Linked DNA regions of Homo sapiens. The protein of the gene in region 1 purifies or fractionates together with the protein of each later gene. This does not show direct contact. Each region holds a gene or a part of one and is shown in the gene's direction. Other genes may lie near its edges.

Region 1 (4,746 bases):
TTAATTTCTGTTACTAAATGAAGTGGAGGAAAACAGTGACTGATAGGAGCTTTGTTTAGTGAAATTCAACTAGCATCTCCTCTTAAATAATTTTAACATATTTTCCAAAATATTGCCAAATCTTTGATGAATTATTTTGGAAAACCTGGCTTCATTTGTGTAGAAGCCATTCATGTTTTCTGGTATTTCTCTTTCTTTTGAGGATGTCTGTGTAAAAAAAATTCTAAAAGTTTGAAAATAGGCTCAGCTCATATAACACCAGCCACATAGTTCATAGGTCTTGAGGGAGTCTCCAGGGATTACTTGGAGATTTTATATACATATAAAAAAGTATATCAAGGTATATGTACTACATTTTACTCAAGTTGGGTTTATATAATTTCAGGTTTCTCTGTGCACATTGGTGATTTCACATTTTAAGTTTATGGGATTCAGGAAGCACGTGTGTTTTAGGCTGTATCACATTGGTGTGGCACTAATCAGATGGCATGTAAATAACTTGTTGATAGGATCACTTAATAAACCATCATGATTCTTCAATCCATATGAGACTTATTTGGGAGAGAAGTGAAATTACAAGAATCAAGGGATTAGTATTATGTTTTATAAATTTTGGATATAAACTTTGAGAATTTTATTCTTATTCATAAGTTAACTCCATATGTTTAAGACGCACAACATTAATGATAAAAATAAGATCCATTGTATCATTTTTATATAGGGGTGTTGGCCTCATGTTAGTGTGGCCTTCTGTTTCTGTAAGGATTCTGGATGTTTAATAGACATTTTGGGTTGCATCATGAAGCTTTATTGACTTTTATGGTGAAATTATTACAGGGCAGGTGAATCCGAACATTGGGGTTTAGCCCGAGAAGGTTGGCTCAGGAAAGAATTCAAGAGTGAGCTGGTGGTAGAAAAATCAGCTTTATTGAGGCAGGGTTGTTACAGCTCTGTGACTTCTCCTTCAGAGCAGGGGTACCCCTGGGCAGTGTGTCAAGAGTAGCAGCTCAGGGCCAGTTCTGCAGCCATGTTTATACTACTTTTAATTATGTGCAAATTAAGGGACAAGGTATTCAGAAATTTCTAGAAAACAGAAGGTAACTTCTGGGTCATTGCCATGGAAAGGGATGGTAACTTCTGGGTGTAGCCATGGCAATGGTAAACTGTCATGGTGCTGGTGGGTGTGTCTTACGGAGAGGATCTTTCGTTGCCTCTTCCTTGTTTCTGTCAGTCTTCAATCTGGTCCAGAGTCACATTCCACCTCCTACCTCATTATGAATAATGAAAAGTCAGGCTGATAGGGCTCTGTATTTTCTATCTTGGCTTCTGTCAGAGTTGTCCCATCGAATCCGTCGTATATGTCACAGTTCACTTAACTGTGTTTAGTAAGGGTTTCTATCTTTAAAGCATGTTTGGAAACACTATCCTATGCAATAAATTTTAATTGGCTTCTTCCATATTTTCTTTTTCTTAATAAAGAACAAAGCAGACTTTTATTTCTAGTGAAATGGTTTACAAGATTGGGTCCTGAATAGACCCAAGAAAATCTAAATGTCATTTCTCTGAAGACTGCAAATTGTTGAAAGGCCCATATACTTTAAAAATGTTACCTATGAAAATAAGAAATTATTTAGACAGGTATAAATTACTATATGGTTTTAAGAACAGTCTTGAAAATACGTTTCAAAAACAACAAATTGTTATCGTTTTAGAAATGCAGATGTCATAGATGTTTTTGCAGCACTCTAAAGCAGCAAAAATGCATTGCAGTTGTGCAGTATTAAGGAAGTTGAAACATCGTTGACTGAGCTCACATTAGTTTGTTGGCTAACCACAAAATATGTAAAAAGGTAGAGCTTTTTGCATGTTTTTGATGCTGTGATTTCTTGACAGGAAGGAAAGCAAACTGCAGAAGCACAGCAAACTGCAGAAGCACCTGCAAAGTATTATAGGAAACAGTGAGACAACGATTAGGGCTTGGAGGATGGCCTACCATTAAGAAAAACTGTGTTGCACTTTAAGTTATGTAAAACTATGTTTAGTTGAAAATGTGTATTTTTAAAATATTTTGATTGCACTGTTCATTTTATCATCGCATTCATATTGGTATATAGCTACACTGTACATTTCTTTAATCTTCTATTAATATTTTCTTTTATTTAAAATCTTGTTTCAACAGTTTGAAGGTGATGAAGTTAATTCCATTGTAATGAGAATTTAATATGTTTGAGAGTTGGTATATTCTGTTGGTTATCACAGTCTGGACTCAGGCATACCTAAATCTGAGATTCAGTGTTGCCTTTGTCTTGATGTGTAATCTTAGACAAAATAGCCTCTCTTTGCCTCATCTCTAAAGTTGGAATTGTAGCAGTGATACTTACCTCATAAAGCTGTTGTGAAGATTAAATTATTTAATCAACATATAACCCTTAGCACCATATATGATAGTTTTTATAATATTCCCCAGTGAGATAATGGTGAGAAGAAGTAAGTGGGCATTTATTAATTGCTATATTATATTACTGTTGACGTTTCTTATGATAGAACTTTTTACAATCTCATGGAATATTATTGTCCCACCTTACAAATAAGGAAACTGATGTCTAATACAAAGATACTTTGATTTGCACATGCAAGGTATAGAATCAAGGCAGTTAAACAATTTGAGTTTTGCTTAAATTGCTCCAACCAAAGTTGTCCTTTGGTTGGAGCAAGAGAAGCTGGCCAAGAGAAATTAGATAATTTACCTGGTCTTGGTGAAAGATAATGAAGGCCAATAATAGGAGGGTTGGATAAAACTGGGCAAATTTGTTTGACATTTTAGCGGTAGAATCAACTAAATACTACTGCATGTGATTCAGTGTTATAGGTCAGCACAAGGGAATATTAATGGATCTCTTGGATATTTTGAGTTTGAAGTTCTCATGGGATATCCAGATTTAGATGCTCCGTAGACACCTGGAGCTGTAAAATAAAAAAACGACTTCAGTGGAGGTTCTAATTTTGCAAGTAAAGAGCATTAGAGTTAATAGTTGAATCCAACAAAGAAGTGCCAAATTGAGAAGTAAAGAGACCAGAGAGCAAAATCCTGATGGGCACCAACATTTAAAAGGTAGTTGGAATAATTTGGTGTGGCTAGCAAAATGTTTAAAATATACTAGGATAGTGAAATAGAGCACAGTAAAGGGAACTGCAAGGAATAAGGTAGTCTCTGGCAATATATGTATTCTAGAGACATCAAATATTATTTTTCTTTTTGAGCATTAAATTCAATTCAGCAATTTTGCAATTTTACAAGCAGTTATTTCAAGCATGTGCTCACAAAGCACTTTGCACGAGCTGTACTTCACTATCTGCAAACCTTGCATCTGGTCCTTGCTTATGGAAGCATTTCGTAAAGTTTCAAATGTAATTAAAAGTGATAGAATTTTTTTTTTTTTTTTTTTTTTTTTTTTGCCTGAGACAGGGCCCTGCTTTATCACCTTGCCTGGCGTGCAGTAGTGCCACCTTAGCTCACTGCAGCCTCAACTCTCGGGCTCAAGAGATCTTCCCACCTCTACCTGAGACTAGATGGGACCACAGGCATGCACTACCAAGCCTGGCTAATTTTTTCTTTTTTTTTGTGGAGATGAGGTCTCACCATGTTGGCCAGGCTGGTCTGGAATGCCTGTGCTCAAGCAATCCCACACACCTCAGTCTCCCAAATTACTGGGATCACAGGCATGAACCATTGCACCTGACCATTTTATTTGAGTTGTATTATTTTTCTTTCTACATTTTGGCTCTGCATTCTACATTTCATCATACTATACCATTATTGAGAATGAGAAGAGCTTGAGAAATTTGTTTATATGATATACTACCGTCTTCCAAACACAACTCCTTCTCTTCCCCTTAAGAGTAATTACCACTATTCTGATTTTTATGCAGTCACTTTCTTGCTTTTCTGTATTGCTTTATTACCCAGGTATGCATCCCTAAATATTACAGTTCAGTTTTGCTTTTCTTTTAATAGTATTTTTTGAGTATCTTATAATCTTCAGGTGCCCCAAACATAGCACCTGACGTCCGATACAAAGACATCTCTCTCCCTTTTAAAATTTGTCTATTGAAAAAACCAGGCCAGGTGCGGTGGCTCATCACTTTGGGAGTCCAAGGCAGGCAGATCGCCTGAGGTCAGGAGTTTGAGACTAGCCTGGCCAACATGGTGAAACCCCATCTCTGCTAAAAATACAAAAAAATTAGCCAGGCATGGTGGCAGGCGCCTGTAATCCCAGCTACTTGGGAGGCTGAGGCAGGAGAATCGCTTGAATCCGGGAGGCGGAGGTTGCAGTGAGCTGAGACGACACCATTGTACTCCAGCCTGGGCAACGAGGCTCCATCTCAAAAAAAAAAAAAAGAAAGAAAGAAAAAGAAAAAACCAGATCATTTATTTGTAGAATTTTCCCAGAATCTGGATTTTGTTGATTACTTTCATGAAATGTAGGTTAATGTGTTCTTCTATAATCCATGTTTCCTGTAAACTGGGAATTGGATCCAGAGACTTAACCAGTTTCAAGAACCTCCTCCAGCACCTTTTTTTAACAAGACTATATCCTAGGTAGTGGGGTATTCTTCCTCAAGAGAGACATAATTCTGTTTTTGAAATTATTGCAGCAGTTGATGCAAAATGCCTAGATCCATGATTCACTAGGGGTTGCAGCATCATTATGGTATATTTGTATGATTTCTTTTTTATTCATTTGC
Region 2 (4,746 bases), on another chromosome or scaffold:
TTTTCTGAGACTAGAGGGAGGAGAACCGATTCTTTTAGGAACTGCCCTTCAAGCTTTTACTAATCAGCAGCTGGGCCATGCAAGATTTTAGTTCTTAAATAGCTTTCCTGGGTTATGTCCTATAGAATAAATGATTAAAAGTGCTTCATGATTAAAGGATTTCATAGTCATAAGCGAGTCCCAATTCTTCGGGATAGAACATATAAATGCCTCTAGAATGGTTTTACATTTAATGTCTAATTAGTCAGCAACCTTTGAGTATAAATTGGGGACTCCTGCAAGATTTATTCACCTGTTGGAGAGTTGTCATTTAGCCCGTTAGTTTATTACAGAACCTGGGACATTCTGCTGTTTGGAAATCTGATTAGCACAGCCTCTCCCAGCTCATGATCACTTGACACCCTTTTAAAGACAGCAGTTCATCTGCTAGAGGAGCTAGTGTTCTGTAGAATAAACTTCGGCAAATGTTGCTTTAAATTTCCTTCAACCACCAGGTTGGATTGCTAAACAGATGTTGTAGCTAAAGAGACATCATTTTCCGTAGTAGGGGATGGGACGTAGCTAACTCCAGTTCTTGCTTCTGTTAACAAGGCTAATCTCACTTATTTTAAGAAATGTATTCCGCTTTCTTTAAAAGTCATTAGGATAAAAAGAAAAACAATGCTTTTTATAATTTATACCTATGTATTTGAATTTCACAGCAACTTTTGTGCTGACCTGTGAGGTCAGCTTCAGGATCTGGAGTAGTTGACGTCAGAAAGTATCTCAGAGCTGCGGTGTGAACTGGGCAGCTGCCCCTATCCTGTGAATACAGTCTGGGGGCCCCCAGCCAGGACATGTGAAGAATGTGTCATTTGTCCCTCAGCATGGTCTTGGCTTCTGTGGGGGCTTTTCTAGGCTCACTACTCTGATTGCTTTGTGGGCAGGAAGAAGACGAGTTCATTGTGGAGGGGCTCCTGAACATCTCCTGGGGCCTGCGCCGGCCCATTCGCCTGCAGATGCAGGATGACAACGAACGCATTCGACCCCCTCCATCCTCCTCCTCCTGGCACTCTGGCTGTAACCTGGGGGCTCAGGGGTGAGTGAGGAGAGACGGGGCAGGGAGATGACTGGGATGCTTGGGTGTTCTATGTGTTCTCAAGCAGATAAATGCTGCCTTCTTCCAGCCAGCCCTGACCCTGGCTCCTCCTCCTACTACCTCTACTGCCCACCTGCCTTAGCCTTGGAATGAGGAACAAGCAGCAGATGTGGTTGTGATTGAGCCCCCTTCCTGTCACTGCAATCACTGATGAGGTCACAGGAGGGGAGCTGCTGAGTCATACGAGGGGAGCTGCTGAGTCAGAGTCCTCCCTTAGGGAGAACTCAGGAGTCTCTGAGTGGAGCTGCTAGTGGCTAGTGAGGCCCAGCCTGTATATTTCTAACAGGGCGCCCCATGCCCCAGCACCCTCCCCACTGGGACCACTCCTCATAGAATAGCCCCACTCCAAAGCATTTATGACTTGAACCTTCTGACCAAAGCTCTCTGAATCTTGGGGGAACCTAGAAGAGGAAAAGGAATGTCAGGCTCTGTCAGAGTCAGCCAAGCGAGATCAGCCAGGGGTCTGCTCCCTGCAGACCATACGGGGAGCCAGGGTTTGGTGAGATGGTGGTAGTCTAAGTTCCCACCAGAAGGGCTGGGAAGACCTAGTCCATCCCTCCTTATCCTCCATGGCTGAATAAGCCGCCAAATGCGCCGCCAAATGCCTCTAGCAAGGCATGCCCTCTTTATTGTCTTTCTGGGACTTGAGTTTTAGGATCAAGTGACTAGCCTGTCTCCATCCTGAAACCTGCTGATGCTGACTGCCTTCGGCCCCAGCCTGGGTGGAGTGTGCTCGCCTCTCAGCCAAAACCACAGTGACCTTTTTTTCTGGTTTAAATGAAAACCAAGCCCTCTCTGTTGGCCACATTGAACATTTTGCTAAACTCCACAGCCAAATCTATGTTTCTCTACAATTGAGAGAAACCTACTATGTGGCCAGCCCTGGGGCTGGTCTGGTTTCTTTCCAAGGGGATTTAAGGAGGAAAATTGTTGCCCACCCCATAGGTGCTAGGATGTCTGGTTAAGGTTCTTTGGTTTCATCTAACTTTGCAGGTTTCATGCTCTGCTTTTCAGCACTATCACCATATTTTTGTTTTGTTTTGTTTGAGACAAGGTCTCACTCTGTTTCCCAGGCTGGAGTGCGGTGGCTTAATCACAGCTTACTGCAGCCTCAACCTCCTAGGCTCAAGTGATCCTCCCAACTCAGACTCCCCAGCAGCTGGGACTATAGGTGCACACCGCCCCACCCCGACCTTTTTTTTTTCTGTTGCCCAGGCTGGAGTGCAGTGATGCGATCTCGGCTCACTGCAACCTCTGCCTCTCGGGTTCAAGCGATTCGTGCCTCAGCCTCCTGAGTAGCTGGGATTACAGGTGCCCACCACCAAACCCAGCCATTTTTGTATTTTTTGGTAGAGAGGGGGTTTCATCATGTTGGCCAGGCTGGTCTTGAACTCATGACCTCAAGATATCCACCTTCCTTGACCTCCCAAAGTTCCGGGACCACAGGGGTGAGCCACCATACTGGCCCTACCTGGATAATTTTCATGTTTTTTGTAGAAATGGGGTCTCACTATGTTGCACAGGTTGGTCTCAAACTCCTGGCCTCAGGCAATCCTCCCACCTTGACTTCCCAACGTGCTGGGATTACAGGTGTGAGCCACCATGCCCAGCTGTACTTGTTACACTGTACTGTATTTGTTATACTATACTGTATTTGTTATACTATACTGTATTATTGCTGTATTTGACTGCCAATGGCCAAGCCCATTTCACAGCCTGACCCTGACCCCCAGACTATTCTATTCCCTAAGTGAGATGATTTTTAAGATTTCGTTTGAGCCTGTGGCCTTTGGTTTGGGCTGCTAAAGGGTCCTTCGGTCCGCCTGCTTCTTCTCCCTTCTCTGCGGCATCAAGCTGGTCCTGGCTGACTCTGCAAAATACTTTGGTAGAATTTTCAGGAATGGTAAATGGTGTCATTTAGATGTCAGCTATAATACAGTGAATGCCTAGACTGCTGTCTTAAGAAGGATCCTGAGGCTGTGCGTGGTGGATCGTGCCTATAATCCCAGCACTTCGGGAGGCTGAGGCGGGTGATCACTTGAGCTCAGGAATTCAAGACCAGCCTGGGCAACATGGTGAAACCCTGTCTCTACAAAAAAATAAAATAAAAAAAAAAAATAAGGATGCTGAGACCGGTTCCTGCTTCAGCAAGAATGAAGGCTTTAAATCAGGGAGTGGGAGTCGCTGCTCTGGGTGCCAAGTGTTCACCATTCCCCAGAAGCTCTGACCAGGTCCATTCTGTGGTTCAGAAGTATATGAGTTAAATTACAATAGGAAGTTCTTTCAGATTTTCCATTTTAATTGTCCTTCCTTAAAACGATCCTCCCCAGAACATGAGGTTTATCTCTACTGGGTCCCAGGGAGCCCATGCTCTTCTCACCATGGGTTGTTCCTAATTGGTCAAATATGATTCTCCTTTCTAGCCAAATCCTCTGTTGATTTTGGATGTTTTTCTGAGCTGCTCCCTTTGTCCTTTTTGGCTTTGAGAAGTTATTTGCCAGTTATGATGGCAAACCAGGGTCTCAGCTTGGACTGCCTGCTTGTAACCCTTTCTTCAGCTTGGATGAGGACTCCATCCTTGCAACGCTGAGAACACTGTCAGTGTCCCTTCCAAAGCTGCCCCTGCCCTTGTTGTGGCCAACTTATTACTTTCCATTCCTTTTGAATGCCAGAAGCAATTATGAGTTATTTCTTCAACAGCAATGAGTCTAAACTGGAATCTTACCCTGCAAAACGAATGGCCACTATTAGAGTTTTCCAAGTAAGCCATAGAATCCATACATGCTTAGAAGCAGTGCAGGCAACACGTGGGTTTTGTTCCTTGGTATTATCCATCCTGGGCTTGATGAATTGGTTGGGTGTGTTACTGCAGTTGCTGCAAAAGAACATCTTCTCCCTCCGGAACTCCCCCTGCCCCACCCACTGCTTGACCTGGGAGCTGGGCCAGCCTTTCACGGGATGCTCCGCGCAGCCCATCTGCACCCTTCATCACCTGATGTGTGCCAGTACCCAGCCTGGCACTAGCAAAGTGCTCCCCTTTCAGGAGTGGGGTCCAGCGGGTGCGGGGGCGTCTCTCCACAGGGCTTAAACTAGTCTCCCCCCTCCCCTTTGTCTTCTCCACTCCCAGAACCACTCTGAAGCCCCTGACTGTGCCCAAAGTTCAGATCTCAGAGGTGGATGCCCCGCCGGAGGGTGACCAGATGCCAAGCTCCACAGGTACATGTGAGTGGAAGGTACTTCCAGCTAGGGACCAACTGTGTGAAGACCGCTGTGATAGATGTTGTAAACTGTTATTTATTTTTGAGAATATAAAATGTATATGGTTCAAGATACAAAGGGAGAGAATTAAGTCACCCACCTCATCCACCCACCTAGAAGCATCCCGAGAACATCCTTCGTGGGATAGTCCATGCAAATATAAGCAAAACACACTGACATGTCTTTATGGGTGGATGTAGTTTCTTTCCCCCTCCCCTCCCCTCCCCTCCCCTCCCCTCCTCTCCCCTTCCCTTCCCTTCCCATCTCCCTCTGTCACTCAGGAGGATGCAGTGCAGTAGTGCAATCTTGGCTCTGCTTCCTGGGTTCAAGTGATCCTCCCACCTCTGCCT
Region 3 (5,322 bases), on another chromosome or scaffold:
CTGACCTGGACTGCCTCAGTCTAGAAGCAGGCCAGAGAGCAGAGGCACGTGGCATCCCAGGGCGACCTCAGACGGCCAGCCGGTTAGCTAGTTCTGCTGTTGCTTCACGAGTTCTGAGCATTCTCTGCTAGCCTATGGAAGCTGCAGCCCTCGGAGGACAGAAGTGTTGTGCGCCCAACAGAACCCTCTGAGACGCAAGCTGCTCCCTTGGCTAGCTCATATGTGGAAATAGCCCTGTAATTCGAGGTAACTCCTTCCGCTCGTGTCCACATCCCTCTTGTTGAGAGCTCACTGAAAGTCATGTGCCCGGGGAATGTTCCTGTGACTGTTTTTTGTTTTTCCTTTTTTTTTTAACTTTGTTTTTGTTTTTTTCAATTAAGCTGGAACTAAAGTCAGGCCCAGCCATTACGCTCCCCACGTGCAGCCAGGTGCAGCCTGGGCCCAGTCATGCCTGGCTCATAGATGAAATCCCTTAAGCAGGATTGAAGACCAGTGAACGCCCCCGCCTTTTGGATTTTTTGCTCAATTGACCGTCTTTTCCAGACCTCTTTAAGTCACACTCTTAACTTAGCTTTCTCTGATGTCTGTTGCCGCCATTAGTTTTTTTCTAGAGCCCACACTGGCCCACATAGCTCCATCCCATACGGGTAGCTGGCTCCAGCTGCGCCAAGGTGCAGACCCGCCCTGGGCATGCTGGCCTGTGACGGAGCCTGAGGTCACAGCCCCCTGACTAGCCTGAGACCTTCCTAGGGGCTGTGGCTGTTTCCGGGGAGGCCGGGAGGGGCAGCTGTGAGCCCTGTGGAGGACGTTGGGAGTAACGCTGCTTTGCTTTGGCAGGTTGAAGGGGCCCGGCCAGGACTCGGGGAAGGGTGGCCTGAGAGCAGCGATGACCTCTGGGGTCACTGTCCCAGGAGGGACTTCACCTGGAACAAGAGCTGGAGGCAGCCGCTTGCCCAGGAGGCTTGTCCCCTGTAAGTGCTTTCGGGAAGAGTGGCATGTGGCGCTGAGCCCTGTCCCGGGCGGCACCTGGGCGTTTCAGTGAGTCCTGCTCTCCCGCACCTATGGCCCCATGGCGGGCGCCTTTCGGTGTGTGTTGGGTGCAGGGCAGCGCCTCCCGGGAGCGCCGGGTCCCCCGCCTGGAGCCCGCGCCTGTTCTCCCTCCCTTCCTCCTCCTTCCAGGAGGCGCTTCGCCAGTGAGGTGCGGGCTCAGGGCCTCGAGTCTCTCCTGGAGCACGGGCTGCGGTGCGCCGGCAGCTTACGGGGCGGCCAGTCCTTGCCCACAACGATGTGGAGCCCTGTGAAAGTCGGATTCGAATAAAGGGCCACGTGTGCACCCAGAAAGCCGAGTCTGTGGTTCAGGGGGGTCTGTCGGCGGAGCGGGGCCACTGGAAGAAAAGCCTGCGGACCTCGGTTCAGCGCACGAGTAGGACCCGACAGGGAAGACTGCAAGGGTCATTGTCCGAGCAGTGACCGCGGGGGGCTCGCCACTGAGGGGGTTCGCAGCGCGGAGACTCCAGTCTCGCGGGATCTGAGGCGCACTCGGCTTCGAGGGAGCGGCGGCCGCGCAGCCGCTGTCAGGCCCCGTCTTGGGCCGAGTCCCGGGTTCCCTGTAGCAGGCTTGGGAGCGGGGCGCCACCTTCCTGGGCCCTGGACGTGGCCGACGCGTTCTCAGTGTCCGTGAGGCCGGGGCAGGAGTGGCGGGGGTCGCCCCGAAGTGGGTGGGAATGAGCGGCCCGAGGTCCTGAAGTCGGGGTCCGCCCCGTCTCCCCGCTGCCAGCCCGATTTCCTCGGAAGCCGCGACCCCCCACGCTGGGCTGGCAGTTCTGGGCTCTGCCGGCTGCGCCTTGCCGGGACTCCCACGGGCGGGCTCCGGGCCTCCGTCCTGATCCCTTGGAGCGGTTCGACGAAGCAAGTTCCGCGGCGGGCGCGCGGGGCACTGTGGGTAGCGCCGGGGCTCACCAGGCGGAGGCGGGGCCCGGCGTCAAGCTCCGCCTCCGCGCCCCATTGGCTGGCATCACCTCCGCGCGCCTGACTGACAGCGCGCATAGGGGCGGGGCGCCGCCACCGCTTCCGCCGGGCCATGGGGCCGCGCGTGCTGCAGCCGCCGCTGCTGCTGCTCCTGCTGGCGCTGCTGCTGGCGGCGCTGCCGTGCGGTGCCGAAGAGGCCTCGCCGCTGCGCCCCGCGCAGGTCACGTTGTCGCCGCCGCCGGCCGTGACGAACGGGAGCCAGCCGGGCGCGCCACACAACAGCACGCACACGCGTCCGCCGGGGGCGTCGGGCTCGGCGCTGACGCGCTCCTTCTACGTGATCCTGGGCTTCTGCGGCCTGACCGCGCTCTACTTCCTGATCCGGGCGTTTAGGTGCGTCAGGCGCACGTGGGCGCCGTCTCTCAGCCTTGGCCAATTAGCGCGCGCCTAGTGCGTCACGTGCCGGGCCGCGGGGTCCTCCCCTCCCTCCCTCCCTCCCTCCCTCTCTCCCTGTTGGAGTGGGCGTGGGCGGTGCTGTGCGGGGTCGTCACGTGGTGTGGGCGGTGCAGGGGCCACGGGACTCACCCGCTCTCCAGCCTGCGCCTGGGGTTGGAGGTGCCCAGCGCGCCGCCTCTTAACTCGGGGGTGACGCTGCCCGTTTCCCAGGTGGGGCCACTGAAGCCGGAGCATGCCGGGCAGGGGTCAGGCCCTGGCGGGGCGAGGGGGCCTCCTTGGCTCCTTGTCGCCGGATGCCCGTCCTCGTTCTCATCTTCCCGCCTGCCGCCAGGCCTTTCCGTGGGGTCCCGATATTTTCCTTTCTGCTTCTACCCACTGAAGCTGGTTCGTCGCCAGGGTCGGCCACGTGCCCGCCTTGGGTGCTCCCACAGCCCGGGAGGTGCAGCTGCGTCCCCAGACCCTCGCGGGGGTCTCCAGCTGTAGGCAGCCCCTGGGCAGGAGGGGCTTCTGCGTGTTCAGGCCACCCCGGCTTCCCTGGCCTGTGGCTCCAGTCTCCTCTGGGCTCCTGACTACCCAGTGTGGCTGCTTCTCCCGGGTGGGAGAGACACAGCGAGGACCTTATCCCTCCCCATCACCACCCTGGCAAAGTCAAGCCGCTTTTTATTTTTTATAAGTTTTTATTGTAGCGATGGGGTCTCGCCATGTTACCCGCGCTGGTCTGAACTCCTGGGCTCAAGTGATCCTTTTTCGTTGGCCTCCCAAAGTGCTGGCATTATAGATGTGAGCACCTGCACTCCGCCATGCTGCTTTTTATGGGCCCTGTGCAGAGCCTCCCCTGTGCTCCACACCTCTTCCTGTGGAAGCACCTGCTGCGCGCTCTCCCCTGCCTGTATGCCGCGCCCTCCCTGCCTCCCGGGCTGCTGGGGCCACCAGGGGCTTGGCCCTGAGACAGGCTTCCATTCTGTTGTCTTTGGCAAAGTCTCACCCCTGTGTGAGCCTCAGTCTTTTCATCAGTGCAATGGGAGTGACATCAGCGTGCCTCTCCTGGGGTCCTGGCGCAGGGGAGATGGGAGGGCCTGGTAGGGCACATGTCTTCTTACTGTCATCGCCATGGGAGTGAATGGTAATCACTTGGCGATTAGGACATGAAAGAAGCAGGCACAGCAAAACCAGGGAGGTCTGCAGCAGGGCTCGGGGCTCCAGTAGAGGACGGCAATGAGAGTCCTGAGGGAAGGAGGAGGCAGGGTTGGCGGGGAGGGGCCACTGACTATGCCTGGACCTACTTCCAGGTTGAAGAAGCCTCAGCGGAGGCGATACGGCCTCCTCGCCAACACTGAGGACCCCACGGAGATGGCCTCGCTGGACAGCGACGAGGAGACGGTGTTTGAGTCCCGGAATCTGAGATGGTGTGCACCCTTCCCCAGCTCTGGGGCCTCGGTGGGCAGGCTGGGCTGGAGACTCAGCAGGACCCTGGGGACTTGGCCAAGCCATGGAGTGGTCCCTGCAATCACAGCTGACAGCGGTAGTCAGGCCATGGCCCCACTGGGCAGGGCTCATCCCTTCTCCCAGCCTCCATTTACAACTTTTTTTTTTTAAACTTAAATGTTTGTCATTTATTTATTTTTGAGGTGGAGTGGCGCGATCCCAACTCACTGCAACCTCCGCCTCCGGGATTGAGGCGATTTTCCTGCCACAGCCTCCCGAGTAGCTGGGATTACAGGCACCCGCCACCACGCCTCGCTAATTTTTTGTATTTAGTAGATAGAGATGGGGTTTCACCATGTTGGCCAGGCTGGGTTCCAGCTCCTTACCTCAGGTGATCCATCTGCCTGGGCTTCCCAAAGAGCTGGGATTACAGGTGTGAGCCACCGCACCTGACCTAAGTTTTGTTTTGTTTTGAGATGGAGTTTCGCTCTTGTTGCCCAGGCTGGAGTGCAATGGCACGATCTCTGCTCACTGCAACCTCCACCTCCCAGGTTCAAGCATTTCTCCCATCGCAGCCTCCTGAGTAGCTGGGATTAAAGGTGCTCACCACTACACCCGGCTAATTTTTGTAGTTTTAGTAGAGACAGGGTTTCACCATGTTGGCCAGGCTGGCCTCGAACTCCTGACCTCAGGTGATCTGCCCGCTTCGGCCTCCCAAAGTGCTGGGATTACAGGTGTGAGCCACCGTGGTCAGCCTTCTTGCTTTTTTAAGGCAGGAAAGCGGCTGCAGGGCTTAGGGTAGTGGTTGCTCCATCTGGGCCCCTCCCTGAGGGATGAGGTCTAAGTCAGGTGGAGAACTGACTGCAGGATGCTTCTGAGCGGGCGGGGTCAGGGAGGGCCTCTCCCTGGTGTAATGGGGCTGGCTTCTGGAAGAGTGTCTCAGGCCGAGGGAACAGCAGGGAGCGGCCGGGCTGCGCAGATGCCGGGCGGGACTGGGGTAGGCCTGGGCATCGAGGCAGCTGTCAGGGGTTAGCAGGGTTCTGGGCAGGGAATGATGGGTATGTTGCGCTGCAGTGTGGCTGCTGGGGGGACCTTGGCCTGTTGGGGGGTGGCAGGCATGGAGGCTGGGAGACCAGGAGACTGGGCGGCCTCTGGGGACAGCTCTGACTTTTTGAGCCCCCAGGGAGGGAGGCACTGGGATCCCTCCGCATGCTCTGACTCCATTCTGGGAACCCCTCCCAGGTTTCTTCTACCTCCTGGCTGGGGGCCCCTTCCCCCGGAGTGGGCAGTTGCACAGGGCCCAGGAGGCCGGGGAGGGAGGCCAGTGGGGGGAGGCTGGGCCCTGGTAGACCGAGGGGCCTGGACAGGCTGCCTGCCCCTGCCTGACCTGGGTGAGCCTCTGCCCGGCAGGGCGGGCCCTTCACTCCTTCCCTCTCACCCTTGACCCCCTGCTTTCAGATGCTGAGCCAGGGA
Region 4 (4,746 bases), on another chromosome or scaffold:
GTGATTAGACCGTGTTACTTGGGCTTCTGTAATGTATTAAATAGTACCTCCTCAGTGACGAAAGGAGCCTTTAATAGTCTAGTTTGGCTGGTGCAGTGGCTCACACCTGTAATTCGAGCACTTTGGGAAGCTGAGGTAGGAGGATTGCTTGAGCTCAGGAGTTCAAAACTAGCCTGGGCAACATAGTGAGACCCCATCTCTACAAAAAAGTAAAATTAGTTAGGCATGATGATGCACAGGTGTAGTCCCAGCTACTTGGGAGGCTGCAGTGGGAAGATTGCTTGAGCCCAGGATTTCTAGGCAGCAGTGAGCCATCACTGCACTACTGCACTCTGGCCTGGGTGACAGAGTGAGACCTTGTCTTAAAAACAAAGAAACAAACCAAAAAACCCAGTTTTTTTTTTTCATTTCAAAGTTGAAATTTTTGTATAATGTTGGTTAGTAAAATTTCTGAAATTACTAGAGAAAAATATTTAATGCTATAGTTTATGATGGATTATATAGTATAAATGCTTATCATATAAGATTGACTAAATATTTTAAGGAAATTCATCAAAATGTCTAATATTTGACATTTAAAAATCAATATGATTAGGTGTTGGCATGCTTTATTTTTTTCTTCTAGAGACAAAGTCTTGCTCTGTTACCTAGGCTGGAGTGCAATAGTGTAGTTATGGCTCACTGCAGCTTCGAAATCCTGGGCTCAAGTGATCCTCTTGCCTCAGTCTCCTGAGTAGCTGGGACCACAGATGCATGCCACCACCCCTAACTAATTTTTAAAAATGTTTTGTAGACATGAGGCCTTGCTCTATTGCCCAGGCTGATCTTGAACCCTTGGGCTCAGGCAATCCTCCTGCCTTGCAAAGCGCTGGGATTACAGATGTGAGTCAATGTGCCCAGCCCTTTCTTGACATTTTAATTAAAGGATTGGGACTTTTAAAAACCATTATAAAATACCTTGGTATTAGCATACATATACTTAAATTCGTTTAGCTGTAATAGCCAGCCTAAATTTTTTCAGCAAAAACTTTATCAGATGCTAACAATGATAAAACCTAATTATTGAAAACTATTAAACTTCCCGCCAGGCGCGGTGGCTCATGCCTGTAATCCCAGCACTTTGGGAGGCCAAGGTGGGTGGATCATGAGGTTGAGAGATTAAGACCATCCTGGCTAACACGGTGAAACCCTGTCTCTACTAAAAATACAAAAAATTAGCCAGGCGTGGTTTCTGGCGCCTGTAGTCCCAGCTACTCGGGAGGTTGAGGCAGGAGAATGGCGTGAACCTGGGGGGCGGAGGTTGCAGTGAGCCGAGATCGAGCCACTGCACTCCAGCCTGGGCGACAGAGTGAGACTCCGTCTCAAAAAAAATAAATAAATAAAATAAACAAACTTCCCAAGGTTTTTCCACATTCATTCTGATGTCTCCTTCAATAGTTATTATTTATTGTTTTACTCAGAAAGTATGTAGTTTAAAATTATTAAAATAGTATTATGTATTTATAGTAGAGTGAAAAAGAAAATCTAAATATAAAGATCTCTCAAATCTACCATGAATGTTAATGGATTTTTATTATATATTACTGTTTTGTAACCTGGTATTCTTTATATAAAAATAAATTGTGAAAAGTATGAATTATTAATATAGGTTATCATTGATTACGGTAGTTTATGGTAGTACCATAATTAAACCAATCCTTTAACATTGGTTGAGTTGGGTTCACTTTTTCATTATTTAAACACAACTACCATCACAAAACAACAACACTGTGATCAGCATTCATACAACCAGAACATGGGGTTATATTATAATTATTTTCAGTATAAATTCTTGGAGGCAGAGTTTCAAAGTCTGGATAGCTGTAGAACTATTTTCAAATATAAAGTTGAGACATTGGAAGATCTGTAGCTTAGAGTTTATTGTTTAATTTGTTGTTGAGTAACTTTAAATAGAAACATTAAAAAGAATATGTAGCTGTTTCCTTAATGCTACAATTTATGTTATGAATGTATAATGGTCATGTTAAGTGTTTTATTTATTGCTTTATTTATATATTGCACATTTTTCATGATTATGTATGTGTTTCAAAGGCTATAGAATTGCTGTTGACATCTGGATAGTTATAAAAGCCTAATATAAGTTTATGTAACATCTTTATTTGACAGATTAGTAAGTGGGTGTTCTTAGCAACTTCTCTGGTGTATGCAATCCTTGGGCTTTAGACTTTTACAGGCCACTTTTAAACTCAACCTTTAGCATTTACCAGAGATCTGATCCTTATGCTTCCCACCTGTGAAATATGGATGATACCAAGCTCACAGAAAGTTGTGGATTAAATGAAGCAAATATGGAACTCCCCAGAGTAGTTCTTGATAGATAATAAATGCACTAATTAACTTTACTTATTTTCTTAGTATAGCTAAACAGTGAGACGAGTTACCAAAGGTCTATTTCTAAAATGTGGAAAGGCCAACCTGATTTTTCAGTTAACAAATCTTTGCAAACATATAATTTTCAGTGAGAACATTATCACTATTAAAAAGGACACAGAATTACAATTGACTAAATGTAAAGTTTTATTTTTTGAACAGTTGGACGGTATTTCTCTTGGGATATATTTATTCTTTTATAAGAATTTTATCATTTACATGTAATAGAAACTGTTGGACTTAATAGAAGACTTGAAAAAAAAACTGATAAATGAAAAAAAGGAAAAATTAACCTTGGAATTTAAAATTCGAGAAGAAGTTACACAGGAGTTTACTCAGTATTGGGCTCAACGGGAAGCTGACTTTAAGTAAGTTATTTATTTCATGTCCAGGTAAAAATTGAGAATTTTATTTAGTTTTTTAGTTTTTTTTTTTACTTAGTTTACTTTTTATATTAGGTGGCTTCTGAATTCTGATCTCTTTATACAAGCTTGAAAATAGCTGTTACTGGTCTGGTGCGGTGGCTCACGCCTGTAATCCCAGCATTTTGGGAGGCCTAGGCAGGCGGATCACTGAAGGTCAGGAGGTCGAGATCAGCCTGGCCAACATGGTGAAACCTCGTCTGTACTAAAAATAGAAAAATTAGCTGGGCGTACTGGCATGTTCCTGAAGTCCCAGCTGCTTTCAGGAGGCTGAGGCACGAGAATCTCTTGAACCTGGGAGGTGTAGGTTGCAGTGAGCTGAGATTGTGTCACTGCACTCCAGCCTGGGCGACAGAGTGAGACTCTTGTCTCAGAGAAGAAAAAAAAGAATATAGCTGTAACTAATCCCATGCATGGTTATTTAAATTTTCTCTCTTTTTTAAATTTAAATTTTAATTTTTTGAGATGGAGTCTTGTGCTGTCACCCAGGCTGGTATTGAGTGGTGCGATCTTGGCTCACGGCAACCTGCACCTCCTGGGTTCAAGCAATTCTTCTGCCTTAGCCTCTCCTGCCTTAGCCTCCTGAGTAGCTGGGATTACAGGCACACACCACCACGCCCAGCTAATTTTTGTGTTTTTAGTAGAGACGGTGTTGCTGTGTTGGCCAGGCTGGTTTCAAACTCCTGGCCTGAAGTGATCCACCCGCCTCCGCCTCCCAAATTGCTGGGATTACAGGCGTGAACCACTGTACCTGGACTAAATTTTCTTTTAATCTAGAATATACTTAAACTTAGATGTTTAAAACAAAAACACAAAGTAGTTCGTTTTCTGTTTCTTAATGGGATTAATTTGTATTTTGAAGGGAGACTCTGCTTCAAGAACGAGAGATATTAGAAGAAAATGCTGAACGTCGTTTGGCTATCTTCAAGGATTTGGTTGGTAAATGTGACACTCGAGAAGAAGCAGCGAAAGACATTTGTGCCACAAAAGTTGAAACTGAAGTATGTTAATTGAAGTATTTAAAAATATCCAGTGAGGTTTTGGTACCAGGGTTTAGTGTACCACATCAATGATGAGAAACACCAAGATAGTTTAGAATTAAAACAATGCTTTGTGTGTAGCTTTATTATAATTAGGCATGTTTTTTTAGAAGTGTAAGGCACCAAGAATTTAAATATAATGATTGGTTTTGAAAAATTTATACCTCTGTTATATATATATATATCTTATTTTGGTATTGCTTGAATCATTGTGTTGTAGGCAGATAGATTCTTTTTTGAGATTTGTCTTACTTAACATTTTTAAATAAAAAGAATTTTAAAGGTGTAAGAGACCTAAGACGTCATTTACTTGCTGTTCTGATTAAAACAAAAATGTTTATGTATAAAAAGGGTTGCCCTTGCCGGGCAACTACCGTTTCTTACTCTTTTAAAATTTTATTTGTTTATTTATTTATTATAGTTTTAGAGTTAGGGTCTTGCCGTGTTACCCAGGCTGATCTTGAATTCCTGGCTTCAAGCAGTCCTCCTGCCCAGCCTCCCAGGTGGCTGAGATTACAGGTGCACGCCACTGTGCTCAGCTTATTCTCTACTTGTAATATAAGAAAAATTATCCTTTTCTGCTGCTTCCACTGAAGCTGAAATTGATCAGTTTTTTGGGGGAGTTGGTTTTTTTTTGTTTTTGTTTAGTTTTTTAATCACTCAGTTCAAGTGCCTGTGACAGTGATGTCCAGACGTCTGCTGTCAAGCAAACCTTATGTATCCTTGACGTGGTTTGGGATTGACTGAGTTGTGAAAATGTAGGTTTGTTTCATGCACTATCCCAACAAAACCTTTTAAGTCTCATTATATAATTGAAAGTATACCTGAACTAGGTAATCATAATTGTTCTATAA

The links. The genes of interacting proteins can lie anywhere in the genome.
Region 2: the proteins of EMB (region 1) and RASSF2 purify together in Homo sapiens (affinity purification with mass spectrometry; one large-scale study listed by BioGRID and IntAct). This does not show direct contact.
Region 3: the proteins of EMB (region 1) and FAM174C purify together in Homo sapiens (co-immunoprecipitation; one large-scale study listed by IntAct). This does not show direct contact.
Region 4: the proteins of EMB (region 1) and KIF20B purify together in Homo sapiens (affinity purification with mass spectrometry; one large-scale study listed by BioGRID and IntAct). This does not show direct contact.

What each region holds. Positions count from the first base shown.
Region 1 is NC_000005.10:50,413,238-50,417,983, reverse strand, and holds part of EMB (embigin precursor), read left to right. Parts: intron 1-4,746. UniProt on the Homo sapiens protein: Plays a role in the outgrowth of motoneurons and in the formation of neuromuscular junctions.
Region 2 is NC_000020.11:4,792,147-4,796,892, reverse strand, and holds part of RASSF2 (ras association domain-containing protein 2), read left to right. Parts: intron 1-926; coding exon 927-1,078; intron 1,079-4,265; coding exon 4,266-4,354; coding exon of another isoform or gene 4,355-4,360; intron 4,361-4,746. UniProt on the Homo sapiens protein: Potential tumor suppressor. Acts as a KRAS-specific effector protein. May promote apoptosis and cell cycle arrest. Stabilizes STK3/MST2 by protecting it from proteasomal degradation.
Region 3 is NC_000019.10:1,273,470-1,278,791, forward strand, and holds the start of FAM174C (protein FAM174C precursor), read left to right. Parts: upstream 1-2,060; 5' UTR 2,061-2,080; coding exon 2,081-2,361; intron 2,362-3,713; coding exon 3,714-3,830; intron 3,831-5,307; coding exon 5,308-5,308; 3' UTR 5,309-5,322.
Region 4 is NC_000010.11:89,721,306-89,726,051, forward strand, and holds part of KIF20B (kinesin-like protein KIF20B), read left to right. Parts: intron 1-2,658; coding exon 2,659-2,798; intron 2,799-3,714; coding exon 3,715-3,853; intron 3,854-4,746. UniProt on the Homo sapiens protein: Plus-end-directed motor enzyme that is required for completion of cytokinesis. Required for proper midbody organization and abscission in polarized cortical stem cells.